Homo sapiens: one gene and its partners. The protein of the gene in region 4 purifies or fractionates together with the protein of the main gene of each other region. This does not show direct contact. Each region holds a gene or a part of one and is shown on either strand. Other genes may lie near its edges. The genes, in order: RBM34, GNL2, BAZ1B and REXO4.

Region 1 (7,026 bases), on a different chromosome or scaffold from region 4:
ACTGCATCTCTGACAGAGTGTGTACTAAAAACTGTCTAATGAATAATTGAACTTTCTAGACCTCGGTCTATAATGTGTTAGACCAGATGATGTCTAATGTACCTTCTGACCTAATTATGCTTATTTGAAGAGGACTATGTTTTTGTTTCTTTTTAAGAAACAGGGTCGCCCTCTGTTGCCCAGGCTAGAATGCAGTGGCACGACTACAGCTCACTGCAGCCTCAAACTCCTGGGCTCAGGTGGTGCTCCCACCTCAGCCTTCTGAGTAGCTGGGACTGTCGGCATGCATCACACACTTGACTAATTTTTTTTTTTTTTTTTGTAAAGGCAGGGTCTTGCTACATTGCTCAGGCTGCTCTTAACTCCTGGGCTCAAGTGATCCTCCCGCCTTGGCCTCCCAAAATGTTAGGATTACAGGCATGAGCCATTGTGCCCAGCCAGGACTACGTTTTTGAAGGGAATGTTGACCTCGGTCCTTGTGCCTCTCTTGCCATCAACTCTGTAACCACAGAGGACATAGGCTGTTTCCTTCTGCGCTTCCCTCACATTGCTGATTCCAGTCCCCTTCCAGGAAAAGCCTGGAAGGAAACATTTCTCTCTACAAAGCTCTCGTTCTTTAAACAAATCAAGTACTACTTACAGATGAGGTCTCAGATGCGAGATCAACTCTAATACGAAATCCATCTGCAATCTGGGCCCCATTTCTGTATTATAAATACAAAGGGAAAATGGTTGTTAAAAATGAGCACTCGATTACTAAAACATCTATGCTAAAGTGAAACCAAAGAATAAAAAAAGTACTCATACATACTTATAGGACAATTATTCTGTTCAAACCTAAGGGATAAAATTACCTTTTCAATGCTTGCGTGGCAGCACTCTCCTCCTTAAACACAACATAGGCATTAATATTTTTCTGATCAGGATGAATTTTACGTCTACACCAAAAAAAAAAAAAGAAAGAAAGAAAAGAGAGACAAGGTAAATTTCTTAGCCTCAAAGTCACTAGAAAAAAATCTAGCTGTTTTCAACTCTTAACACACATGACAAGAATTCCTGGGTGGACATTTCATCTCTTTGAATAAATATTTAGTAATAACTCAAAAAATAACACACAACTTATAAAGATATTAGTGGAGACACAACCCATACTTTCTTAGGAATCATAACCATGAGAAAACAGATGAACCATGTATATGAATCCCTGAGAACCATACAAGAACTAAAAACTGACATCTTAGCTGCAGTCCGTATCTAACACACATATAAACAGTTGTGAAAGACGTGAGTTTTCCTCTTTACTGTGAAACACCCATATAGAAGAGTGCACAAACTACGTATAGCTGAGTGAATTAACAACAGCTCAACGTGCCTTGTAGCCCACTCAGAAGCCTCTCTGTGGCCCTTTCCCGTTGCAGCCCCTCCTTCCCTCCAAAGGCAACCACCATTCCCATTTTTATAGGAACTACTTCCCTGCACATCTTTGTGGTTTTATCAACCAAGTGTCTATTCTTAGACATCATACTTTGGTCTTGTCTATACTTTTGACCTGATATGTCTTTTGAATCTTGTTTAATTTACAGAGTTTTCTCTGTATCTCTTTATCTCTCACTATTTGGCCTGCAGAATTCCCCACAGCCTGGATTTTGTGACTGCAAGCTCATCAAGTAGTTTAACACAAACCTTTGTCCTCTATATTTCTTGTAAACTGGCAGCTGCATCAAAAGGATGGATCAGACTCAGACATGACCCCTTTGTCGCGACTGCTGGTGGGTGTTGTGTTCTTTCCAGGGAGTCATGTTATGACTGGTTTTTACCCTTTTGTCAATGACTGCAGCTGCTGCTACTAAATGCCTAAACTCATTAAGTCACTAGGTTTGCAAAATGGTGATATAATTTGGATGTGAGGAGTTAGCAAAAAGGACCTAGTAATGAACACAGATCTTTCCCTGAAGACATCAACCTACTGTTTTGAAGTAAGAAAAATGCTACTACACAAATGAGTATCATCAAGAAGGGAACTGGAAAATAGTGCCTGACATGACTGATGGCATTCTGTAATAATACACTATACTAATGCTTTTGTATTGATTAAACCAGCTGTGATTTACTGAATGCCTAATATATACCAGACACTCAGCTAGACATTTTATGTATTTCATTTAATCTCACATCTCCAACACGGTGTTTTTTTTCTGATTTTATGAATAAGGAAGCTGAGACTGGAAGAGGTACGTGACTGCGATGAAATGGCAACAAGTGGCTGGCCTAGGACTGAAACCAAGTCTAGCTGACTCTAGAGCCCTGCTCTTCACACAACACACAGCTGCCGACAACATCCAAATCCAACACATCCTAGTGCACCCCCAGGAACAAATGCTGGAGTTCCGCTTCCACCTAGAATGTAAAAAGCCAGAAAGTGCATCACTCCTGCTCTTACCAGTTAAGAAGAAACCAGATAACCCACAGCATCATAACTTTTGTTGCAGCCATCACAGAGCTGAAGTCTTGGGGAAAGCCAGCAGCTAGAAGCTAAGGACAGGCCTGCTTCCTCCAATGAGAGACAGAGGAAGCACTGGCTCTTCTGGCTCTACGATGGCCGAGCACAGGGGCAAAATGCTGGGCACCAGACAAGCAGGAAAGATTCCAGCCATGATCTCACTAAAACACTAGAGCTCAGCGTGGGCTGGGCCTGAAACAGAAGTCCTGGAAGCTGCCGAGGCAGGAGTGTGCGCCCATCCTCAGGATCTGCCCCACTGACCTCCACTCCCTGGGAAAGGCTGAGATCGCAGCTATGGGTGCTGCAGGCCTGGAGGACGGAATGGCCAAAGTGTGGGAAAGGCACAAAGCCCCACCTGGATTCTTCTTGAGAGGTGACAGCGTGCTGGCAGTCCTCAGAGCCCTCGCTTGCTCTCCGCACCTCCTCTGCCTGGGCTCCCACTTTGACGGCACTTGAGGAGCCCTTCAGCCCACCGCTGCGCTGTGGGAGCCCGTTTCTGGGCTGGCCAAGGCCGGAGCCGGCTCCCTCAGCTTGCAGGGAGGTGTGGAGGGAGAGGCGCGAGTGGGAACCAGGGCTGCGCGGCGCTTGCGGGCCAGCTGGAGTTCCAGGTGGGCGTGGGCTTGGCGGGCCCCGCACTCGGAGCAGCCGGCCGGCCCTGCAGGCCCTGCCGGCCCCGGGCAGTGAGGGGCTTAGCACCCGGGCCAGTGGCTGCGGAGGATGTACTGGGTCCCCCAGCAGTGCCAACCCACTGGCGCTACGCTCGATTTCTCACCGGGCCTTAGCTGCCTTCCCGCAGGGCAGGGTTCGGGACCTGCAGCCCGCTATGCCTGAGCCTCCCACCCCCTCCATGGGCTCCTGTGCGGCCCGAGCCTCCCCGAGGAGCGCCACCCCCTGCTCCACGACGCCCAGTCCCATCGACCACCAAAGGGCTGGGGAGTGCAGGCGCACGGCATGGGATTGGCAGGCAGCTCCACCTGCAGCCCCGGTGCAGGATCCACTGGGTGAAGCCAGCTGGGCTCCCGAGTCTGGTGGGGATGTGGACAACCTTTATGTCTAGCTCAGGGATTGTAAATACACCAATCAGCACCCTGTGTCTAGCTCAGGGTCTGTGAATGCACCAATCGACACTCTATATCTAGCTACTCTGGTGGGACCTTGGAGAACTTTTATGTCTAGCTCAGGGATTGTAAATACACCAATCAGCACTCTGTATCTAGCTCAAGGTTTGTAAACACACCAATCGGCACCCTGTGTTTAGCTCAAGGTTTGTGAGTGCACCAATCGACACTCAGTATCTAGCTGCTCTGGTGGGGCCTTGGACAACCTTTATGTCTAGCTCAGGGATTGTAAATACACCAATCGGCACTCTGTATCTAGCTCAAGGTTTGTAAACACACCAATCGGCACCCTGTGTTTAGCTCAAGGTTTGTGAGTGCACCAATCGACACTCTGTATCTAGCTGCTCTGGTGGGGCCTTGGACAACCTTTATGTCTAGCTCAGGGGTTGTAAATACACCAATCGGCACTCTGTATCTAGCTCAAGGTTTATAAACACACCAATCAGCACCCTGTGTTTAGCTCAGGGTTTGTGAGTGCACCAATCGATACTCTGTATCTAGCTGCTCTGGTGGGGCCTTGGAGAACCTTTGTGTCGATACTCTGTATCTAACTAATCTGATGGGGACATGGAGAACCTTTGTATCTAGCTCAGGGATTGTAAATGCACCAATCAGCACCCTGTCAAAACAGACCACTCGGCTCTACCAATCAGCAGGATGTGGGTGGGGCCAGATAAGAGAATAAAAGCAGGCTGCCCTAGCCAGCAGTGGCAAGCCACTCGGGTCCCCTTCCACACTGTGGAAGCTTTGTCCTTTCACTCTTTGCAATAAATCTTGCTACTGCTCACTCTTTGGGTCCACGCTGCTTTTATGAGCTGTAACACTCACCGCAAAGATCTGCAGCTTCACTCCTGAAGCCAGCGAGACCACGAGGCCACCGGGAGGAACGAACAACTCCAGACGCGCTGCCTTAAGAGCTGTAACACTCACTGCGAAGGTCTGCAGCTTTACTCCTGAGCCAGTGAGACCACGAACCCACCAGAAGGAAGAAACTCCGAACAAATCCGAACATCAGAAGGAACAGACTCCCGACGCACCACCTTAAGAGCTGTAACACTCACCGCGAGGGTCCGCGGCTTCATTCTTGAAGTCAGTGAGACCAAGAACCCACCAATTCCGGACACATTCTCTTGATGGAGGAGAAGGCTAAGCTGCTAGGGGAGGGATAGCAAACCCTGTCACTCCAGGGCACAGAGAAGACCCCTACAGCCGGAGGAAGGGAGGAGTCCAGCTACCGGGGGAGAGGTGGGAAACATCCTCTGCATAATCCCCACTAAAGGTACAAGGCATTTGGCACAGCTTGGCTGCCCCGGGAAAAAAGCCCTGATCAGGTGCACTCCTGAGACACGGAAACACTAAGACAAGACAGCAGAGACCCTGCTGCGCCCACTCCCACCAGACTACCAAGCCAACTGACAAGCAATAGCACTTTTTTTATTTTGAGACGGAGTTTCTCTCTTGCAGTCCAGGCTGGAGTGCAATGGCATGATCTCGGCTCACTGCAACCTCTAACTCCCATGTTCAAGTGATTCTCCTGCTTCAGCCTCCAGAATAGCTGGGATTACAGGCGCACGCCACCACTCCTGGCTAATTTTTGTATTTTTAGTAGAGACGGGGTTTCACCACGTTGGCCAGGCTGGTCTTAAAATCCTGACCTCAGGTGATCCGCCCACCTTGACCTCCCAAAGTAATGGATTATAGGCGTGAGCCACTGTGCCTGGCCAACAACAGCACTCTCTAAATGAGATCTTCAATAAAACTTAAAACTTTCAATCTTTAAGAGACACCTCTGGGCGTGTGTGGTGGCTCATGCTTGTAACCCTAGCACTTTGGGAGGCAGAGGTGGGTGGATCATCTGAGGTCAGGAGTTCGAAACCAGCCTGGCCAACATGGTGAAACCCCGTCTCTACTAAAAATACAAAAATGACCCGAGTGTGGTGGCGCACGCTTGTAATCCCAGCTACCTGAGAGGCTGAGGCAGGAGAATCAGTTGAACCCGGGAGGCGGAGGTTGCAGTGAGCTGGGATCGCACCACTGCACTCCAGCCTGGTGACAGAGCAAGGATCCATCTCAAAAAAAAAAAAAAAAAAAAAGACACCTCTAAAAAAGCCAGCCACAAACTGGAGCAAAATATCTGAAACACACATAGCAGGAAAAGGTGTTATATCTAGAATATATAAATAACTCCTTACAACCATATAAAAATAATTTAAAAGTCACTAAAAAATGGGCAAAATTTTTGTACCAACATTTCACCAAAGAATAGATACAAATAGTAAGCACATAAGATGCCTAACATTTTTAGTCACTGTGGTTGACAAACCTTCAGAATGTCTAAAATTAAATGACAATGCCAAGTGCTGGTGAGGATGTGAAGCAACTGACATTCTCATCGATAGCTGGTAGGAATGTAAAATGGTACAAACACTTTGGAAAACAATTTTGCAGCTTCTTAGAAAGTTACAATATACCGTAAGATCTGGCAATCCGACCAGGCAGTTTCTCAAAAGAAATGATCCGTACCCAAATTTTTTTTAGCAGTTTTATGTATAATAGCCAAAGGCTGAAATAACCTGAATGTTCATAAACTGGTGAATGGGGCCGGGTGCGATGGCTCACGCCTATAATCCCAGCACTTTGGCAGTCTGAGGCGGGCGGATCACCTGAGGTCAGGAGTTTTAGACCAGCCTGGCCAACATGGCAAAGCCCCATCTCTACTAAAAGTATGAAAAAATTAGCTGGGCATGGTGGTATGTGTCTGTAATCCCAGCTGCTTGGGAGGCTGAGGCATGAAAATCACTTGAACCCGGGAGGTAGAGGTTGCAATTAGCCGAGATGGTACCACTGCACTCCAGCCTGAGCGACAGAGCAAGACTCCATCACAATACAATACAGTACAATACAGTACAATACATCACAATAAATACAACACAACACAATAAACAGGTGAATGGATAAACAAATACTGTCATACAAGGGAATACTACTGAGCAATAAAAACGAATTAATTACCAATGCATTGCAATAATAAGAACAAATCTCAGACAGGCACGGTGGCTCAAGCCTGTAATTGCAACACTTTGGGAGGCAAAGGCAGGAGGGCTACTTGAGCTCAGGAGTTCAGGACCAGTCTGGGCATTAGTGACACCTTGGCTCTACTAAAAACTTAAAAATCAGCCGGGTGTGGTGGCGAGCACCTGTAGTCCCAGGTATTTAGGAGGCTGAGGCAGAAGGACTGCTTGAGCCCAGGTGATAAGGCTGCCGTGAGCCATTATCGTGCCACTGAACTCCAGCCTGGGCAACAGCAGAAGACACTGTTCCCCTCCACCAACCCTCCCCCACAAAAAAACAAACCTCAAAATCATTATGCTGAGCAAATTAGACAAGAGTATATCCTGTATGATGACT
Region 2 (7,026 bases), on a different chromosome or scaffold from region 4:
AGAGCAATGTGGCAGCTGCCTATCAAAAAGCATGCATACCTTTTGATATCATGCTTTGCTCCGTAAGAACTTATCTTTGGGGAATAATTAAGGATGAAAAAGATGCGGTCACATTGATGCTTCATCCTTGTGTTGTTCACCATAAGGAAAAACTATACACAGTATAAATGTCCAACAATGAGACTGGCCATAACAAACAAAATACTACTCTGACAATAAATATTATATTATTGTTGATTATGTACTGACATAGAAATATATTCCTAATAATCACAGCTTACTGCAGCCTCAAATTCCTGGGCTCCAGTGATCCTCCCACCTCAGCCTTCTGAGTAGCTGGGACTCTATGCCCAGCCAATTTTTTATTTTTTGTAGAGACAAGGTCTCACTATGTTGCCCAGGCTGGTCTCAAACTCCTGTGCTCAAGCGATCTTCCTGCCTCAGCCTCCCAAAAAACTAGTATTACAGGTAAGCCACTGCAGCCAGCCGGTGACTGATTCTCCTTTTGAGTATGGATCCCTACGAGAATATGATTAAAATTATAGATACTTCCTCTCCTCCTCCTCCTCCCCAAAACAAAAACAAAAAACACAAAACCCTACTGCCTTTATGTAAGCTCACAAATTTTCCACATTTTCTTCAAAGAGTCAAAGAAACCTTACAGGCCATCCATTAACTCAGAGACCTCCAGTTAAGGAAGCCCCGATATTCACAGAGGCATTAACAATGCTTAATATCAGCAATGGGATCATGAGTTATGTTCTTTTTGTTGTATTTTCCAACTTAACTATATTTCCTAATTTGTCTATGACTGGTGTATTACTATTATAAATGAAAAAATGTTATTTATTTTGGGGATGAGGAGAGACCTTTGTCAATCAAGCCACCTTAGACATCTTCAGTCTAGCCCCAATTTCACCAACGTCTCCAGTCTGAGGGAAGAAGATAACTCCATATATGAGTTAAAGCACTGAGCTTCACACAGGCAAAATAAGTTGAAAGAAAATGTTTTGTTGCAGAAGAGCAAATGATGAGATTTGCATGAACTTCAAAACTGTACCTCGACCGGGTGCAGTGGCTCACACCTGTAATCCTAGCATTTTGGGAGGCCAAGGAGTGTGGATTGCCTGAGCTCACGAGTTCAAGACTAGCCTGGGCAACACGGTGAAACCTTGTCTCTACTAAAATACAAAAAATTAGCCAGGCATGGAGGCATCCACCTGTAGTCCCAGCTACTCAAAAGGCTGAGGCAGGAGAATTGCTTGAACCTGGGAAGCGGAGGTTGCAGTGGGCCAAGATCGCACCACTGCATTCCAGCCTGGGCGACAAAGCAAGACTCCATCTCAAAAAAAAAAAAACAAAAACAAAGAAGCAAAAAAAAAAATGTACCTCACACCAGTGTCTTCAGTTACCAAATCACGATCCTTGCCCTGGTCATAGCTCTCAGTGGACATTTCAGCATTTTCGATAAGAGACTGCATATCACTTGCAAATAAGTTTGGTCGTTTCCTCTGTGACTTAGGGCCAAATGTAGTTTCAAAACTTTCAGTATCAAGAATGTGCACCTTCAAGTTCTGAAGAGAAAGGAGAATAACAGGTAAAACTAAGAAAAGCACTGAGAAAAAGCAAAAAGCTCAACACCCACCTAGGAAAGACTTTCTGATTTTATTTTTCCAAGGTTCAACCCATACCCAAATCTGTAAGACATGGTTTCAGTCTGGTTTCAAATCAGAATTACTTGTTGAAATGGCACAAACACTGGTTCCCTTATTCTGAAGTTCTGTAAGCTTCCTTGGAGAAATACAAAAGTAATACAAATAATCAAAGTAAATATGAATAGTTGTACAAAAACTTGCCAAAAACTCTGCTTTATTTCATTTATCATAAATTTCAGTCAAATGTAATTAAGGCTACAGTGGTGAAAATTAATCTTTTCCACCATTTTTTATAGCTTTCAAACAAGAGCATAAAATTCGCCAAATTCATAGATTTTGTCAAGGACAATCATACTCAAATTTGTGAGTTTTTTTTAAACCAACTGTAAATGCCAACTTTTTCTTGGAAGTTAATTTCTTTCATGGCTAAAAGGAATTGCTTGTTTTGTAAGATGCATTTTAGTTTCAGATAACATTTTCCCTAATTTAGGTAACGTTTTTATTAAATGCACATGGCAAGTCTTCGGATGAAAAACATCTAGCAAAAGTCCAAAATAATAGTTTAGATGTGATAAAAGGAACCTGATACTAACTAGAACTTGATGTGCCTGTAAAGGAGTTACAGGCATAGGAATTTCTGAAGCAAGATAAAAGAGTTGGGATCTATCACATAACGGAATGTTAACAGCCTGCAGACAATTAAAAAAAAAAAAATCACCCTTTTCCCCCTAGTACAAGCTCCTCCGTAAGCACCACTACCAAAAGCTGTGAGGATGATGCAGCAGCCCCTGTGGTTTCTGAACTTTAACAGATCCCCTCTTCCAACTTCTAAAGATCCTTAAACTATTATCATTTTCTCAGATGCCCTAACCCACAACTCAGTTTAGTTTTAGTCACTACGTTCCACTCGGGAGCATCTCCAAACAGAAGCAGCTCATTTTACATGGGAAATAGGGTCTAATGTCACTGGGTAAAATCAAGTGTGACCAAAATTATCCTTCAAAATCTCTTAACCTGTAAGTTACAGTACCCAAGGCTTTATGTCTATAAACCTACACATTAGTAAGTATAACACACATTAGTAAGTATAACACAGTAATATACAGTATATAAAGCACATATGCAAAGTTACAGTACTCTTACTGTATTGCTACAGAAATACAGTAGTTCTAAAACACATATAGATGAATATGCGTATCTGATCTAACTCCACTGTGCAAAATAATCTCAGAATTAGATTTTATAAGTAATAGATATTACACTAAAATAAAATAGTTAAGGTTTTTCAAGGCCAAAGCAGAAAACTCATCAATTACTCTGAGCAGCTTTCTGCATCAACAAAGAAGCTGACTGGTGCAACTGCAGACCCTTCATTCTACATACCAGATATTTAAACACTGAATTTTAGAAGCACTGACAACAAGTACAGGCAACGAAGCAATAAATCCATCACAGAACCTCTCTGTTCTTCTCATAAACAGGATTCAATAGTTGCTTAAAAGATGGCTTTAGGGAGAACAGACAAAGAGAACAAGGGAAATGAGCAACTTGTCTGTGGTTCATGAATTACACTCATGTGTTCCCCTGAAAGAAAACAGTCATTCTACTAATAGGTGCCATTCTTCTAGTGCATCATAAAACAAAACATAACTGACAAAACCTGAGGCAATAACCAGGCCTTGGTTTTTATTTTGTTCTGCAAGTAAACAGTTTTCTTTGAACTATTTTATTTTTATTTATTTATTTGAGACGGAGTCTTGCTCTGTCGCCTGGGCTGGCACGCAGTGGCGCAATCTCGGCTCACTGCAAGCTCTGCCTCCCGGGTTCATATCATTCTCCTGCCTCAGCCTCCTGAGTAGCTGGGACTACAGGTGCCCGCCACCACGCCCGGCTAATTTTTTTTTGTATTTTTAGTAGAGACGGGATTTCACGTGTTAGCCAGGATGGTCTCAATCTCCTGACCTTGTGATCCACCCGCCTTGGCTTCCCAAAGTGCTGGGATTCAGGCGTGAGCCACCGCGCCCAGCCTGAACTATTTAACCCACGTATGCATGTCAATGTTTTTCTCCCCTCCTCATACTGGAACTGAAGCTTACGTACTGGCTACATTTCTGGGAATTTATTATTCAATGCAAGTAAAAATAAGCAGACAAACAACAGATTCTTTCTTTGTTCTGTGTGAAACTCATTCCACTCAACCCAGATTGAATCCTTACTGCACTTCAAATTTTAGCAATTGACAACCAATGTGACCAGCACCCCTTCCTTCAGCTGAGAAAAAATCTCAAGGATCTCACAAAAGCTGAACGTACGCAACACCAAAGTTCTACCAACTCAATCCTAATTCTACGCTGTCCCAAAGTTTGATGGAATTACCACTTAAAACAAGTTTGCCTACCAAAATAAATAATATTACTAATAGCTGTTATCAATTTAGCTCTTATTAGGTGGTGTGCTATGTGCTCACTATGGGCCAAGTGCTTTACAGATGCTTCATCTGTAGCCAATAACCCAAGGAGGTCGGTTATCTATACTTTCTGTTTTTTTTAGACGGAGTTTCGCTCCTGTTGCCCAGGCTGGAGTGCAATGGCACGATCTTGGCTCACTGCAATCTCTGCCTCCCAGGTTCAAGCGATTCTCCTGCCTCAGCCTCTCCTGAGTAGCTGAGATTACAGGTATGCACCACCACGCCTGGCTAATTTTGTATTTTTAGTAGAGACAGGGTTTCTTCTTGTTGGTCAGGTTGGTCTCAAACTCCTGACCTCAGGTGATCCGCCTGCCTGAGCCTCCCAAGTGCTGGGATTACAGGCGTGAGCCACTGTGTCCGACCTATCTATACTTTCAAGGCAAAGAAGTTAAAGTTCATGGAGAAACCCAACTAAGGGCACAGGAAGGGATAGAGCAAGGATTAAAATTCAGGTCTCAACTCCAAAACCTGTGCTTTGATCCACTACACTACTGCACCTCATACTAAACATGAAAAGGTGAAAAGAGAGGTCTTAGAAAGTTCATCATTGCTACATTAAAGTCACTATTTTCTAAGGAAAAACAAAAGACAAATATGTTAGAGAGGGATCTGCATGGAGTTTGCCCAGGAAATTCCATCACCAGGGATATCCTACATCTTACATGAGGCCGGATTCGATCATGGAGAAGAGACATTGGTAACTTGCTTTGCTTCATGACAACTTTGTATGGATCCTTCATAACTGTATCCATTTCCTCTTGAAATTTTTGTAATGATGACTGCTTAATCACACGTGTGTTTCCTGTTTTACAAATAAAGAATGTTGCCACTTAGTTAATATTTGCGCATCCATCTTCCACTGACACGGTGAAAGGCAAGATTTTAAATTACCCTCACTTACCCAAGCACCTGATCCATCCATCCCTTGGAGCTGTTTTCAAACTTAAAAGAGGAAAAAACCAAAAAACTGCCTCTCCCGCACTTGCACACTATGAACTATTCCACAAATCCAGACCCACAAAGGGTTTCAATAGTTTTCCAAGTCCAGTTTCCTAACTAAATGAAACTGAGAAATAAATAGCGTGGAATGGAACTGAGATCTGTCAAATGTCCTACTACCTGCTAGATCTAGCAGAGAAACCTGGAGCCAATCACAGCTGATCAGTCAGTATAGACAGAGAATCTTGAAACACTGAAATTTGAGTCATAGTTAGCCACTTTTAGGGTTATGAGGATTCAAAGGGACTATTAACCAATGAGTCCATGCAAGGGAACAAGATAGAGCCCTGCACCACCACCTGGAAAACATCTTGTGAGGGAGACCCTGAAAAGCATTCAATTAAACAGCATGCTGCGGCATAAATGCAAAACAGCAAGGTGGTAATGACGGTAGCAAGTAATGCTTATATTATACTCACTATTTGCTAGGCGCTATTCTAAGCACTTTATATATATTTACTCTTTTTTTTTTTTTTTTTTTGAGATGGAGTCTCACTCTGTCACCCAGGCTGGAGTGCAGTGGCACAATCTCAGCTCACTGCAACCTCTGCCTCCTGGGCTCAAGGGATTCTCCTGCCCCAGCCTCCCAAGTAGCTGGGATTACAGGTGCCCACCACAACACCTGGCTAATTTTTGTATATTTAGTAGAGATGGGGGTTTCACTGTGTTGGCCAGGCTGGTCTCGAATGCCTGACCTCAAGTGATTCACCAGCCTTGGCCTCCCAAAGTGCTGGGATTACAGGCGTGAGCCACTGCGCCCTGCCTGTATTTACTCATTTGATTACCATGACAGTCTTATGAGATAGGTTTCATCTTATTCTCATGTTAGGGATGAGAAAACTGATGAACAGACAGACTTAATAACTTGCCCACTGGCACATAAATGACAGAACTAGAATTCAAACCCAGGCAGTCTAATCGAGTCACAGTACCCAGCAGCCATGCTAAATGCTTCTCTGCAGAGTTTTGACACCTTTCTGTGTTGCAGTTCTTAGGAAGTATCCCACTGAAAGTATAAGAGACTCAAAGATAGCTGCCACCTGCCCCCAAGGACAGAGGTCAAACACCAAGCAAACACTGGGGTCTGATCATCTAAAGTGCCCATACATTTACCAGTGGCTAAGGGCAAAGTTAAGAGCCCAGACTGAAATGAGACAGGGAGTTTTCCAAGGAAGAAGCTGTGATCACCCTGAGACTGAAGATACTCTATTCACTGTTGGACAGTTCAACAGTGAGACCCTTTAATTGTCACCCAAGTTCAAATAAAAACCCCATTAAGAAGTATTTCAGAGGAACTTCGGGCTAATGCACTTACCCTGAAGGATATATGCACAAAACCTACAAGGCCACCTCTCCAACAGTATCTCTTTAGGAAAGCAGAAAAGATTAAGATGAGCATTCTAAGGTCTGTGAATGCTAGTCATTAAGGATGGTCTTATCTGCTTAAGAGGGTTCAATTACAATTACTAATGGTGAGCGCTCTTCAAAAAGAAGTTATTTATTAAATTGACCACCACTACTTTTCCCAGTAATTCTTCTTATCCCTTTCTCAGATAATCCTTGCCGGTTTCACTCACCAAAAACTCCTGCTGTTTAGACATTTAAACATCCTAGCCGTTTCCACTCAGCATATATTTTGTAGAGCAAAGTAACAGGGGATAATACTCACCAAACCATTTAATATTTGGCTCTACTCTTGCCACTGTGCCAGAAGCCACCGTTGATTGATATTGCAGGGGTTTAATTATTTTACCACGACTGTTCCTAAATTGAGGAAAGAACAGATATTGGTTGACAACAGAAAAATGGCAACAGCGAAGTTTGATTTACAGAATATATTTTCCATCAAAAGGACTTCTTACTTTGGTTTTAAATGATCATGAAATACCAATTCCAGTAAACACA
Region 3 (7,026 bases), on a different chromosome or scaffold from region 4:
AGTTTTTTGTGTGATTTTTTTTTTTTTTAGCTGATCAACTGTTTTTAGTGTTAGTGTATTTTATGTGTGGCCCGAGACAATTCTTCTTCCAATATGGCCAAAAGATTGGCTACCCTGGTTTAAAAAATAAATTTCATAAAATACTTAGAAGTATTCCGGAAAGTACTTTTGATATAATATTTATCCAGTCTCTATGATGTCTCCAATAATACTGAGATTCAGAAGATCATTTACTAGCCGTTTAGACAGTCTTCGTGAGGGAGACGAGGGAAAGAAAAACATCAAGTTGGTAGTGTAAATATGGCAACTTTCCACACAAAACCAACTGGAATTCACCATCAGCCAGCCACTTCCAAATTCAAACGGCAAGTAACTAATTTACTTTTAAGCACAGCAACAGATGCTATGTAAGAAAATCAACTGACATAAGTAGAAAGTTAGTGAACAATACCTGTATATTCCAAGTGACACATTTTATAGTGGTTGAAATAAAAGTATTTAAACAGTTTCCTCTACAATACTATCTAACAAATAAACAAATATTCTAATTTTTGTTTTTTGGAAACAAGGCTGGCCTGTATCTCCTGAGCTCAAGAGATCCTCCTACCTTAGCCTCCTGAATAGCTGGGATTACAGACTTACACTGCAGCATCTAGCTCATTTTTATCTATTTATGTATTTATTTTTGACACAGGGTCTCACTCTGTCACCCAGGCTGAAGTGCAGTGGTGGGATCATGGCTCACTGTAGCCTTGACCTCCTGGGGTCAAGCAATCCTGGGCCTCAGCCTCCTGAGTAGCTAGGACTACAGGTGCACACCACCATGCCCACCTACATTTTTTATCTTTGCAGAGTCAGGGTCTCACCACATTGCCCAGGTTGGTCTTGAACTCCTGGGCTCAAACAGTCCTCCTGCCTCAATCTCCCAAAGTTATGGGATTACAGGTGTGAGCCACCACGCCCAGCCGCATGTTTAATAAATATAGATGCTTGGTTTTCCAAGGTTATGATCAGCAAAAACGCAAACAAGAACAAACCCACAGGTAATCCAAAATAGTAACTTTATGCAATAGTATAAGCACCTTTGCTCATTGTGGATCTTTCCCCAGATCTGCTAAAACTGAGTAATAAATCCATTTTCCTTACAGGGGTGGTGCTAATATCTAAGTGATTAAACAAAATATATAGAATGTTTGAGTAAAAACCTGAGTCAGACTTCCATATACAGATATGTAAATCCAATCACCGAAAAATTTTCAAACTTATACCCAGAGAAGAGCAACGGAACGGCTTCCAGAGGACATTATCCCAAGACGGATTTGTCTTATTTTTGTCTACTGAACTAGGGGAGTGGAAGGGATGGGTAGTAAAATAAGGACAGAGGAGGAATCAGTAAGTGGACTTATTTAAGCTTTCAAAAAGCTTGATAACATTCTAACACATTATTTAGCCATATTTAAGAAGCTCCAACAGGCATGGTAGCTTACACATGCAATCCCAGCATTTGGGAGGACAAAGTGGGGGGATCTTGAGCCCAGGGGTTCAAAACCAGCCTGAACATAGCGACTTTACAAAAAACTATTAAAAGAAAAAAAAAAACTCACTGTGTCATCAGAGAGAATGTAAGAGAAATACATTAACAAATATGTCTTAAAGAGAGAACAGTAAGTTTTTATTATTACAGGTTGAGGATCCCTTATCCAAAATGCTTAGAACCGGGAGTATTTTGGATTTTGAATTTCTTTCAGATTTTGGAGTATTTGCATTATACTTACTAGTTCAGCATCCCAAATCCAAATATCCAAAATGCTCCAATGAGCTCTTCCTTTGACGATCATGTTGGGGCTCAAAAACTTTCAGATTTTGGAGCATTTCTGATTTATGGATTTGGGATGTTCAACCTAGAGTTGTTACTTTAAAAAGCAGGGGCCAGAAAAAAACAAAACAAAAAAAAGTAGGGGCCGGCCAGGCACAGTGGCTCATGCCTATAATCCTGGCATTTTGGGAGGCCAAGGCAGGTGGATCACCTGAGGTCAGGAGTTCGAGACCAGCGTGGCCAACATGGTGAAACCCCCGTCTCTACTAAAAATACAAAAAATTAGCCAGGCGTGGTGGCGTGCGGCTGTAATCCCAGCTACTCGGGAGGCTGATGCAGGAGAACTGCTTGAACCTTGGAGACGGAGGTCGCAGTGAGCTGAGATCATGCCATTGCACTGTAGCCTGGGCAACAAGAGTGAAACTCAGTCTCAAAAAAAAAAAAAAAAACTGCATAGTGGCAGTTTATGAGGCCCAGGCACGAACATCGCTCAAGCCCAGGAGTTCAAGAGCAGCCTGGGCAACATAGCAAAACCCCATCTCTATTAAAAAAAAATTAGTTGAATGTGGTGGCACAGGCCTGTAGTTCCAGCTACTCAGGGATCTGAGGTGGGAGGATCACTTGAGCCCAGGAGGTGGAGGTTGCAGTGAGCTGTGATGGAGAGCAACAGAGGGAGACTGTCTAAAAAAAGAAGATTAGCCCGGGCATGGTGGGTCACGCCTGTAATCCCAGCACTTTGGGAGGCTGAAGTGGGTGGATCACGAGGTTAGGAGTTCAAGACCAGCCTGGCCAAGATGGTGAAACCCTGTCTCTACTAAAAAACTAGCCACGCATGGTGGCGGGCGCCTGTAATCCCAGCTACTCGGGAGGCTGAGGCAGAGAACTGCTTGAATGAGGAAGGCGGAGGTTGCAGTGAGCCAAGATCACACCGCTGTACTCCACCCTGGATGACAGAGTGAGAATCTGTCTCAAAAAAAAACAAAAAACCTCCAAACTCACACAATCACGACGAACTCATCACACCTTCTCTGCCAAGAATATACAGTCCTCTATTATTCGTCTAAATTCTAATCATCCTTTAGATCTCAAAAATAACTTTTCCCAGAAAACATTCATTGAACCTTCAAATATGATAGATTGTATTAGTTTCTAACTATTCACCTCCTTTCCATAAGAGGATTTTTACATCTCCACCCACTGCCATGTGGCTTGTCTACAAGGTCCCTGAAGAGGAATGTACCTCCCCTCTTCATTAACATCAAGCTTGACCCCGTGACTGGTTTCGACCAATAGATGTGAGCAGATGTAATATATGTCACTTCCCGGAAGAGGCTTAAAGTCATGATGTCTTCTAGCTCTTTCTTTGTGCCACTAGCAAACTAGCAAGCAAGACATGTCACACACAGGGTCTGCCCCTCCAGCCTTGTTCCTTTTTTTTTTTTTTTTTTTTTTTTGAAGCAGGGTCTTGCTCTGTCACCCAAGCTGGAGTGCAATAGCACCATCTCGCTTCACTGCAACCTTTGCCTCCTGGACTCAAGTGATCCTCCCACCTCAGCCTCCCAAGTAATTGGGACCACAGGCAAACGCCAGCATGTCCAGCTAATTTTTCTATTTTTTTTGTAGAGACAGGGTTTCATTCACTGTTGTCCAGGCTGACCTCAAATTCCTGGGCTCAAGCAATTCACCTGCCTCAGCCTCCCAAAGTGCTGGCATGAACAACCATACCAGGTGTCAGCCTTGGTCTTAAAATGAGAAAAATGTGGAAGGGTGTGGTGGCTCACGCCTGTAATCCCAGCACTTTGGGAGGCAGAGGGGAACGGATCACTTGAGGCCAGGTGTTCGAGACTAGCCTGGCCAACACGGTGAAACCCCGTCTCTACTTAAAAAGTGCAAAAAAGGAGCCAGGTGTGGTGCACGTGCCTGTAGTCCCAGCTACTCGGGAGGCTGAGGCAGGAGAATCACTTGAACCCAGGAGGTGGAGGTTGCAGTGAGCCGAGATGGCACCACTGTACTCCAGCCTGGGCTACAGAGCGAGACTCCACTCAAAAGCAAAGAGAAAAATGTGGTTTTCTTTTTTATTATTTATTTATGTTTTTGGAGATGGTGGTCTCACTACATTGCCTTGTCTGGTCTCAAGCTTCTGGGTTTAAGGAATCCTCCAGCTTTGGCCTCCTGAGTAGCTGGGACTACAGGCGCACACCACCACATCCAGCTGTTTTCTTTTTTCCCACCATTTTTTTCTTTTTTTAATATGAGAGTACTACAAAATTTTAAATTACATATGGCTTACATTATACTTTTGTTGGACAGCACTGAAACCTGAAGTATACATCTCAGAAAATGTCCTCTGACAGTATTAACTTAAAATTAATTGCCTAGTCAAACTGATTATAAAATCTGGGGCCAGGCGCGGTGGCTCACGTCTGTAATCCCAGCACTGTGGGAGGCCGAGGGGGTGGATCACTGAGGTCAGGAATTCGAGACCAGCCTAGCCAACATGGTGAAACTACTAAAAATACAAAAAATAGCCAGGCATGGTGGCAGGCGCCTGTAATCCCAGCTACTTGGGAGGCTGAGGCAGGAGAATTGCTCGAAGTTGGGAGGCGGAGGTTGCAGTGAGCCAAGATTGCACCATTGCACTCCAGCCTGGGCGACAGACTGTGACTGTCTCAAAAAAAAAAAAAAAAAAAAAAAAAAACAACTGTAAAAGAATTTCCTACAACCCCTAACAACGGCTATTTTAAGTTTGTGTAACTGTTCTGGTAACTGTTCTGGTAATTATATTAAGAGAAAGCAAGGCTGGGCATGGTGGCTCACGCCTGTAATCCCAGCACTTTGGGAGGCTGAGGCCGGTGGATCAACTTGAGGTCAGGAGTTCGAGACCAGCCTGGCCAACGTGGTAAAACCCCATCTCTACTAAAAATACAAAAAATTAGCCAGGCGTGGTGGTGGGTGCCTGTAATCCCAGTTGCTTGGGAGTCTGAGGCAGGAGAATTGCTTGAACCCAGGAGGCGGAGGTTGTAGTGAACCAAGATCGCACCACTGCACTCCAGTCTGGGCGACACAGCAATAACCCAGCTCAAAAACAAAAAAAAAAGAGAGAAAGTAAGGCCACACACAGTGGCTCATACCTGTAATTCCAGCACTTTGGGAGGCTGAAGCGGGAGGATCACTTGAGGCTAGAAATCCAAGACCAGCCGGGGCAACTTTGCAAGACCTCGTCTCGTCTCTACAAAACATACAAAAATTAGGCGTGGTGGTGTGCACCTATGGTTATAGCTACTCAGCAGGCTGAGTGGGAAGAATCACTTGAGCCTGGGAAGTTGGAGGCTGCAGTAAGCCATGATCACACATCACTGCACTCCAGCCTGGGCAACAGAGTGAGACCCTGTCTCAATAAATAAATGAATAAGAAAAAAAGGGAAAGCAAGAAAAAAAATGAAAATGAAAAGGCAAAAAGGCCCATCAGAAGGATATTGAGTCAGCTGCCTCTAAATCCTATTTCAGATTTTAGGTTACCAAAATAAGTCACTCACTCTCAAATAACCTCTCAGAGCAAATGCCAATTGAGGTTTTTATGTTCCAGCAACTGCTGCACATATAATTGCAGACAAAATGTCAAAGCAATTCTCCAAAGGTTGTGTAAGCTATAAAAGATAAGATATTTTCGAATCCTAGACTATCTCATTATGTATCTACTTTGCCATCAGCTACCTCCTTATCACAATATGCTGCTGCTTTGTTCTCTTCAGTCTTGCAGGGATTGTTTCTTTCAATTAAGTACTTGATATCCTGAAAAGATGTGGCCCAGATAAGTATAGAGTCAAACAAGCATAACTGTAACTAACCTAAGTGCTCTAAGTCAGAAGATGGCAAAGAGTGAGCCAACTCAAGATTTGCTTTTTACTCGATATTCTCTCTTACTCGATTTTTTCTCTTAAAGACTCCAGACTGTCTTTAAGTTAAAAACAAGTCTAATATGGCATAACGTATTACTTTAAAGAATGTATAAAAATCAGGCTGGGCGCAGTGGCTCACGTCTGTAATCCCAGAACTATGGGAGGCCGAGGCGGGCGGATCATAAGGTCAGGAGATCAAGACAATCCTGGCTAACACAATGAAACCCCATCTCTACTAAAAATACCAAAAAAAAAAAAAAAAATTAGCCAGGCGTGGTGGCGGGCGCCTGTAGTCCCAGCTACTCAGGAGGCTGAGGCAGGAAAATGGCGTGAACCCGGGAGGCGGAGCTTGCAGTGAGCCTAGATCGCGCCACTGCACTCCAGCCTGGGCGACAGAGCGAGACTCCGTCTCAAAAAATAAATAAATAAATAAATAAAAATAAAAATAAAAATAAAAATCAACGTAAGAGCTCAGTATTCCAAATGTCCAGTAAAACTCTATCTTACAACTACAACTTAACTCCATCTATAGCTACTCAACTCTTAACACATGCTCTAAGGCAGACGCAGTAGTGCGTGCCTGTAGTCCCAGCTACTCTGGAGGCTGAGGCAGGAGGATCTCTTGAGTCCGGTTCAAGGCTTCCCTGTGCTACCACCTCGTCTGTGAACAGCTGCTGCACTCCAGCCTGGGCAACACAGCAAGATTCCATCTCTTAAAACAAAACAAAAACATGCTCTAGTCACACTTGTGTAGAGCCAGATTAACAGTATGAATAAGCCCCTCATTATCATACCCTCAATAAATTCTCACATAATGATGCTACAAAGGTCGTGAACTAGTTATTTCTAAGCTTTAGAAACTATGACAGTTGAAGTAACACAACAAAAATACTCATCTACAACACGCTGCTTGTAGCTCCAATTCCTGCCTAAAACCTATCTTGACTTAAATACAGTCAGTGTCACATCAAGAACTGATTCTGATAAAGTTAGTGTTTTCCAAGATCTAGTGTCCTGCCTGTGGGAATACCTTAGGAAGTAATGTACCATACAAAGCTACAGTACAATCAACATAATCACCAATATTTAACACCTAGTCATTAAATGTGTGCATTACTCACAACTTCCACTAAGTTTAATGAAGATTCACAATATACTCCAAGAACATACCAACATACAGCTTTAAGTCAGTAAAATATCACACAAAGTTCTGTGATACATGCAATCAAAAGGTAGGTATTAAAAGAAAATTAAAATATCAAGTCCCATTAAAAACATAATTGTAAATATAAGTTGAGAACTGGGAATACT
Region 4 (7,026 bases):
CCTACAGTTTGCCTCTCAGTGGAGAGGTGCTCATGGCACTTAGGGTGGTAGCCACCAGCTGCCATTTATAGCATGATGGGCTGGTGATACACCCCTATCAGCCAATAAAAGGAGAGGGCCAGGGGAGGAGTCAGCATCCCCATCTCCCATCTTGAGGCCTCCCTGCTTATTTCAAGAGGGACAGCTCTGGCCAGGCATGGTGGTTCACACCTGTAATCTCAGCACTTAGGAGGCCAACGAGGGCAGATCACTTGAACCCAGGAGTTTGAGAATAGCCAGGGCAACACAGCAAGACCCTATCTCTAAAAAAATAAAAATAAAAAAATTAGCCAGGGGTGGTGGCATATGCCTGCAGTCCCAGCTACTTCAGAGGCTAAGGTGGAAGGATTGCCTGAGCCTGGGAGGTGGCAGTTACAGTGAGCCAAGATTATGCCATTGCACTCCAGCCTGGGTGACAGAGCAAGACCCTGTCTAAAAAAAAAAAAAAGGATGAAGAACGGCTCTGCCCTTGGCACCCTCTAGAGCAGATACGACAGTGGTACCAGGCCCTTAGTCAGTGACCCTGTTTCAGAGGTTAGAGTGGAAATAACTTGCCCTCCGTTGCAATCATTTTTAAGGTCAGCAATTAGCAGAACTCTATTTTTAAACATTCCTTCTAGTTTTAAAGGTTAAAAGAAAAAACAAAAACCCTTTAACCAACAAGTCAGCCACCAGTGACCAGAAACAATGAAGTGACCAGCAAAACAGAAATACAGTATCTTGAGTCACACTCATTCTAAGTACCTTTACTTGACTCTTGAAAGGTTTATATTTCTGTGTGTCCCGAATCTTCTTTTTTGGATGATCAAGAAATAGTACCTAGAAAAATAAAATATAATGATAATCATTTTCATTTTTGGTTTGTAGTAGCAGAACCCCCTCCCCCCGCCACCTTTTGCAAGTAACATCTTTGTGTGTGTGTGTGTGTGTGTGTGTGTGTGTGTGTGTGTGTGTGTGTGTGTGACGGAGTCTTGCTCTGTCACCCAGGCTGGAATGCAGTGGCTCAATCTTTGCTGACTGCAACCTCCGACCCCAGGTTTCAAGTGATTCTCCTGCCTCAGCCTCCCGAGTAGCTGGGATTACAAGTGCCCGCCACCATGCCTGGCTAATTTTTGTATTTTTTAGTAGAGACAGGGTTTTGCCATGTTGGCCAGGCTGGTCTCGAACTCCTGACCTCAGGTGATCCACCCGCCTCGGCCTCCCAAAGTGCTGGGATTACAGGTGTGAGCCAACGCGGCTGCCCTGCAAGTAACATCTTGTAGGGAATCCAAGTGTGTCACACACACATGGAAACAAGGCACTGATATGAATTTCAACTCCAGAAGGAAATTTATTGCACTGACTTAAGCTGATGCCCAACAGTCAGAGACAATAAAAACAAAATCTTGAAATCAAGGAAGTAGGAGAAAAACAGTCAACAGTTAACCAGCAACCAACTTATTCCTATATTATACTTGTATTTTGAGTTGGTTCTACACATCAGGAAGTTGCAAATAACACATTTTAACAGCTCATCTTGCAATCTTAGCATGCAATTTTTTGTTTTGTTTTGTTTTTTGATAGGATCTCACTCTGTCACCTGGGCTGCAGTGCTATAGGGTAATCATGGCTCACTGCAGCCTTAACCTCCTGGGCTCAACTGATCCTCCTACCCCAGTCTCCTGAGTAGCTGGGACAACAGGCACACGCCACCACACCTGGCTAATTTTAAAATTTTTTATAGAGATGGGGTCTCCCCTATGTTACTCAGGCTGGTCTCTAACTCCCGGCCTCAAGCAATCCTCCAGCCTCAGCCTCCCAAAAAGCTGCGATTACAGGCATAAGCCACTGTGTCTGGTCCTTAGCATCATCTTCAAGAAAGACTTGAACATGTGCTGCGCAAGGTGCCAGGGATGGAGTCAGAGTCAGGAGGGAAGGACGAGTCCCCACGGCAGCAGTCTCTGAGGGGGTACAGCAGGAGCACACAGAAGACCTTTCTGTGAGGACACTGCCCGGGGGGTTCTCACCTCAGTTTCACCCTCTGTAAACAAGCATGAACACCTCCAGCATCTTCAATGGATTCAAGGGATCTCTACAGTGCCGTCACGGGAGCACCATAGCAAAGGCTGCTGCCTGAACATTAGCATCTCTGTCACTTCCTTCTGAACGGCTTCAAGTTCCTCACCACACCCAAGTGCTTCAAGCCGGTGGGCAGAGGTGACAACTTAAGTGTCTCTCCCATCTAGCAGACTGGCCTCCCCGCTGTTCCCACTGTGTCCTTTAAACCAACATCCAGGCATTTGCCCATAAACTCAAAGTGACCCCCACCCTGTTCTCCTGTAAATACACACGTACTCGCTCTGCCTGACTCTTCATTCCTGCCTCGGGTGACCAGGAGATGGCAGGCTGCCCTCCCCACCCATGACGCCTTCCCTGCCCAGGGTCTGTATATGTCTTTGAACTTGTTTCCCACGGTGGTGGTGTCTGAATTTGCACTTTCCATCTGAAGAACCAGGGGCTGCCCCAGGCGGGATTTTCCTCGGGACGCCAGAAAGAAGGCAAAGGCAAGCTCCCAGGGCCAGGGTGATGGTTAGGCAAGCGTAACCTGAACATGGGCCACAGGGCATCTGCCAGGATAAACTTGTTTCCTGTGGAGGGACCCTGGTCACGGATGGGACAACTGGACATTAGGCCTTCCTCCAGGTAAAAGGGGTATCAGCACCTTCATTTCTCATTAGGGCGGGGTTGCCAGCTGCTCTGGTATGGGTACCCCAGTTTCGCTGGGGGCTCTCAAAACAAGAGCCTGGCATGGCTCCTAAAACACAGTAAGAACTCAGCACGCGGTATCTGATATTATTACCAAAGTATTCCCAACATAGAGCACAAACCCACACATTGTTAAAACTCCCCAACACAGCAAGGGCGTGAGTGTAACACCCACGGAGCAGGGGCAGGCTGAGTCCCCAGGAGAGAGCCCAGTACCTTTAGGTCATTATGCAGAGCGTGCCCCACTAGAATTCTGCCCTTCAGCATCTCTGCCACTTCCTTCTGAACAACTTCAAGCTCTTCTCCTGGAAAATCAACACAAAGAAGCGGTTTTTTGCAACACACACATCACCATCATTCTGTGAGGAGGCAGCCCCGCTCCTACCCCTGGTCAGACCTAAGACAAATGGTCAGGCCTGCAATGCCACTACGGAGGGTGACTCGAAGCCACCACATCCACCCACCCCCCTGGGAGAAGTGCCTTGTGGGCCCCTGGCAGGGGTGGCTGCGAGAACCACCTCTGAGGAGAGGAATAAAGTGCTCCACACAGTCTGCAAAGTCGGCTCATGGCTGGAGGAGAGCATATGTTGAGTGTAGGCACTGAGAAACTTTTAGAGCCGCCTGGCAGCGTGGTTCTGCCTATTCAACCTCATGATTTACTTGACAATTTCCCAAATGGAAATAAAAACAAAACTGCCCCCACAAAAATGGGTAGAGATGTGTTGCCCTAGGCCCTGGGCTCCAGAGGCAGCCTTGCCTGCTTCTGGGGACCACCCCACCACCAACCCCACTTGTACCCCCCGAACAGGGGTGATTAGACCAAGGGTGGCCCGAGCCAAGTGGGACCAGCTAATTTTTTAAAAATATTTTTTAGAAGGCCAGGTGCAGTGGGTCATGCCTGTAATTCCAGCACTTTGGGAGGCGGAGGCAGGCGGATCACCTGAGTTCGGGAGTTCAAGACCAGCCTGACCAATGTGGAGAAACCCTGTCTCTACTTAAAATACAAAATTAGTCGGGTGTGGTGGCATATGCCTGTAATCCCAGCTACTCGGGAGGCTGAGGCAGGAGAATCGCTTGAACCCAGGAGGCGGAGGTTGCAGTGAGCCCAGATTGTGCCATTGCACTTCAGCCTGGGCAACAAGAGCAAAACTCCATCTCAAAAAAAAATAATAATTTTTTTTAGAAATGAGGTCTCGCTATGTTGTCCAGGCTGGACTTGAACTCCTGGGTTCAAGCAATCCTCCCTCCTCAGCCTCCTGAGTAGCTGGGACTACAGGCATGAGCCACCGTGCCCAGCTACTGGCCTGGTCTTGAAGTCAGCGGACAGGAGGCAATGAAGTGCAAGGCATAAATGGGTGTAAAGCCGTCTAAGGATGCCTTTTGTATTTTAAAACCCATCGCCCCAAAAGGAGACAAGACGCATCAAAACCAGCTGCAGTGAGTGGTCTCAGACAGAAAAGGGAACAAAAGGGAGAAAACGAATCCAGTTACTACTTTCCCTTCTAAGTTCCTGAGCTGTGGATGACATACCCTGCTTGAGGTTCTCAGGCCGAATCCCACTGACCGCTGTCCTATAGTCCGTCACGGGCTCGGTTGGTTTGACGTACTTGTCATAAACGCACTTCCCATACTGGTTCACGATGGACACACGGGCGGCCATGCTCTCCTCCCCCTTAGGGCCCACGCCCACCATCTCACAGTCCAAGGCTAAGGCTCTTGTCAGGCTGAAGGGTAACCAAAGGCTGTAGTTTAATAAACACGGCAGGCCACAGGGCTCCAGGTCAGAGCCCCAGGGATCCATGGACTAAGTGTCAGCAGAGAAAAGCTCTCTGCCCCTCACTCATTTGCACCCACGTGACAAGCTCTGTGTGGTCCTGGTTCTTAGCAGGACCCTGGGAGGTGCTTGCCTCATTCACCTCAGGGAGAGGAAAGCATCCTCTTCCTTGAAGAAGCCCCGCCCTCCACGGCTAAGCATCCCCAGCAGACCCCACTCCCTGAGACCAGCGTACCCGCCGAAGGCCTGCTCTTTCACGAGGCTGAGGCTGACGCTGCCCTCGCTCTGACCCAACTGTTTCCTCGCTATCTTGGCCGCCTCTGGACCTATGGCAGCTTCGATATCCGCTGGGTCCACGTCGTCAAACCAGATGTCTTCCCTAAAAGGCAAAGATAACAGGCTGATCACCAGAAGACCCTAGTGCAACTGGTGGGGTGGGGCTGTGGGGCTGACTGTGCAGGTGAGTGGAGCGATGGCACAGCCTGCCTCTCCCACAGGCTGGCCCCAGACACCCCGACTGCTGGCCCTGCTGCTTCTGCTATTTTGATCATCTTGGCATTTTCCTTTTTTTTTTGAGATGGAGTCTCACTGGGTCACCCAACCTGGAGTGCAGTGGCATGATCTTGGCTCACTGCAACCTTTGCCTCCCAGGTTCAAGTGATTCTCTTGTCTCAGCCTCCCTAGTAGCTGGGATTTTACAGGCGCCCACTGCCACGCCTGGCTAATTTTTTGTATTTTCAGTAGATACGGGGTTTCGTCATGTTGGCCAGGCTGGTCTTGAACTCCTGACCTCAAGTGATCCACCTGCCTCGGCCTCCCAAAGAGCTGGGATTACAGGTGTGAGTCACAGCACCTGGCCTCATCTCTTTTCTTTTTAATTAGAAAATACACTCATTATTCAAGATTTAGGAACACAGACAAACACAAAGAATATAAAACAGAAACACATAACCCACCACCCAAGTGTAATGAGTGCTAACATTTTAATTATGAAGGTAACACGTTCATTATTGAACACTTAGGAAACAGACAGACAGAATGCCTGTAAGATGGAAACACAGAACCCCTTGCCCTCCGTACTAGGAAGCTCACACAGGCACGTAACACCTGCCTGGGGAATCTGTCTCTTGGGCTAAGGTTAAATGTCATTTCCTTAGAAAAGCCATTCCTGGCCCCACTGAATGGACACGTCCCTCTTGTTCCAGGCGCCCAATACCTTCTCCTCACTAGATTTATCCTGACCACACTTAATCAACAGCTGCAGTTTACAGTCTGTCTACTGCACTTGACAATAAGCCTCAAGAGGGAGGAGCAGGCCCACCTCACTGAACTCTATCCCAGACAGCCTGCCTAGCACAACACAGGGAGGCCCCCAAATGGCTCATTCCTCAGCCATCAGCGACTGTGTCCTGAACACCCAGGCAACATGAAGCCAGCTGTAACTTATGAACACGTCACCTCCAGCTGAACCATTCAGAGAAGGCCACTGACTCCCGGTCCACCCCACGTGGGTGGCCAGCACAGGGTTTATTCTTTTCACTTGTTTTTTTGAGAGTCTTGCTCCGTCACCCAGGCTGGAGGCAGTAGTGCAATCACAGCTCACTGCAGCCTCAACCTCCTGGGATCAAGTGATCCTCCCACCTTGGCCTCCCAAGGAGCTGGGATCACAGGCAACAGCCACCACACCTGGCTCCATCACAGGGTTGAAGTAATCACCAGGCACTGAGCCAAGAGTGCCAACCTCACAATCTCCTTATGATGCCACCATGACTACCACAAGGCACAGAGGACGTCAGAAACTTGCCCCAAACCACCCAACTGGCGAGAAGCAGGGACAGGCCTCATACTTGGGTCTTTCTGGCTTCAGCACGCTTTCCTTCCACACACGTGTACTGGCACCCACTAAATGCTGAGCTCTGCTCAACGCTCGGAAGAAGCAGGCCCTGCCTTATCATGCGCACACTCTAGGGGAAAACAAGTAACAGCGAGTAAACAAAGGAACAGACGACATCAGGGTAAAGTGATGGAGAGACTGCGGTGAGGCCACCAGCCTCCATAAGGAGACAGGCCTTGGTGAAGTCGCTGTGCCTCGGTTCTCAGTGGTGAGGTGGCCCATACTTACTCGGTGGGTGGGGCTGGGGCTGCCTCCTTAGCTTTCCGCTTCTTATGCTCGATGTCCCCTCGTTCTGGAACAATATCACCATTTGTCCTTTCCTTGGTTCCTTTCTTATTGTGCTCTGTTCCACTGGCCTTGGTGCGAGGTACTGGCGCCCTCCTGTCCATCTTGGAACCTGAAGGAACAGAGCCCCTGCTGGCCTCCTGGTCTTTTCCTGCCGGCATCTCCTCTCCCTTCACTTGAGGCGAGGTCTCTTTTTTGTTTTGCTGGATAATTTTGGGCTTCTTTTTGGAACCCATCTGAGAGATGACAAGAGGCTTTTCTGGGGCCTGAGATTTTTGTTTCAGCAGCC

What was found.
Region 1: the proteins of REXO4 (region 4) and RBM34 purify together in Homo sapiens (co-immunoprecipitation; 3 studies listed by BioGRID and IntAct, with this or other methods). This does not show direct contact.
Region 2: the proteins of REXO4 (region 4) and GNL2 purify together in Homo sapiens (affinity purification with mass spectrometry; 2 studies listed by BioGRID and IntAct, with this or other methods). This does not show direct contact.
Region 3: the proteins of REXO4 (region 4) and BAZ1B purify together in Homo sapiens (affinity purification with mass spectrometry; 2 studies listed by BioGRID and IntAct, with this or other methods). This does not show direct contact.

What each region holds. Positions count from the first base shown.
Region 1 is NC_000001.11:235,137,237-235,144,262, forward strand, and holds part of RBM34 (RNA-binding protein 34), read right to left. Parts: intron 939-7,026; coding exon 855-938; intron 705-854; coding exon 641-704; intron 1-640.
Region 2 is NC_000001.11:37,585,922-37,592,947, forward strand, and holds part of GNL2 (nucleolar GTP-binding protein 2), read right to left. Parts: intron 6,886-7,026; coding exon 6,791-6,885; intron 4,925-6,790; coding exon 4,785-4,924; intron 3,332-4,784; exon of another isoform or gene 3,039-3,331; intron 1,575-3,038; coding exon 1,390-1,574; intron 1-1,389. UniProt on the Homo sapiens protein: GTPase that associates with pre-60S ribosomal subunits in the nucleolus and is required for their nuclear export and maturation.
Region 3 is NC_000007.14:73,512,286-73,519,311, forward strand, and holds part of BAZ1B (tyrosine-protein kinase BAZ1B), read right to left. Parts: intron 1-7,026. UniProt on the Homo sapiens protein: Atypical tyrosine-protein kinase that plays a central role in chromatin remodeling and acts as a transcription regulator. Involved in DNA damage response by phosphorylating 'Tyr-142' of histone H2AX (H2AXY142ph).
Region 4 is NC_000009.12:133,407,985-133,415,010, forward strand, and holds part of REXO4 (RNA exonuclease 4), read right to left. Parts: coding exon 6,681-7,026; intron 6,661-6,680; exon of another isoform or gene 6,353-6,660; intron 4,938-6,352; coding exon 4,794-4,937; intron 4,509-4,793; coding exon 4,315-4,508; intron 3,090-4,314; coding exon 3,001-3,089; intron 859-3,000; coding exon 784-858; intron 1-783.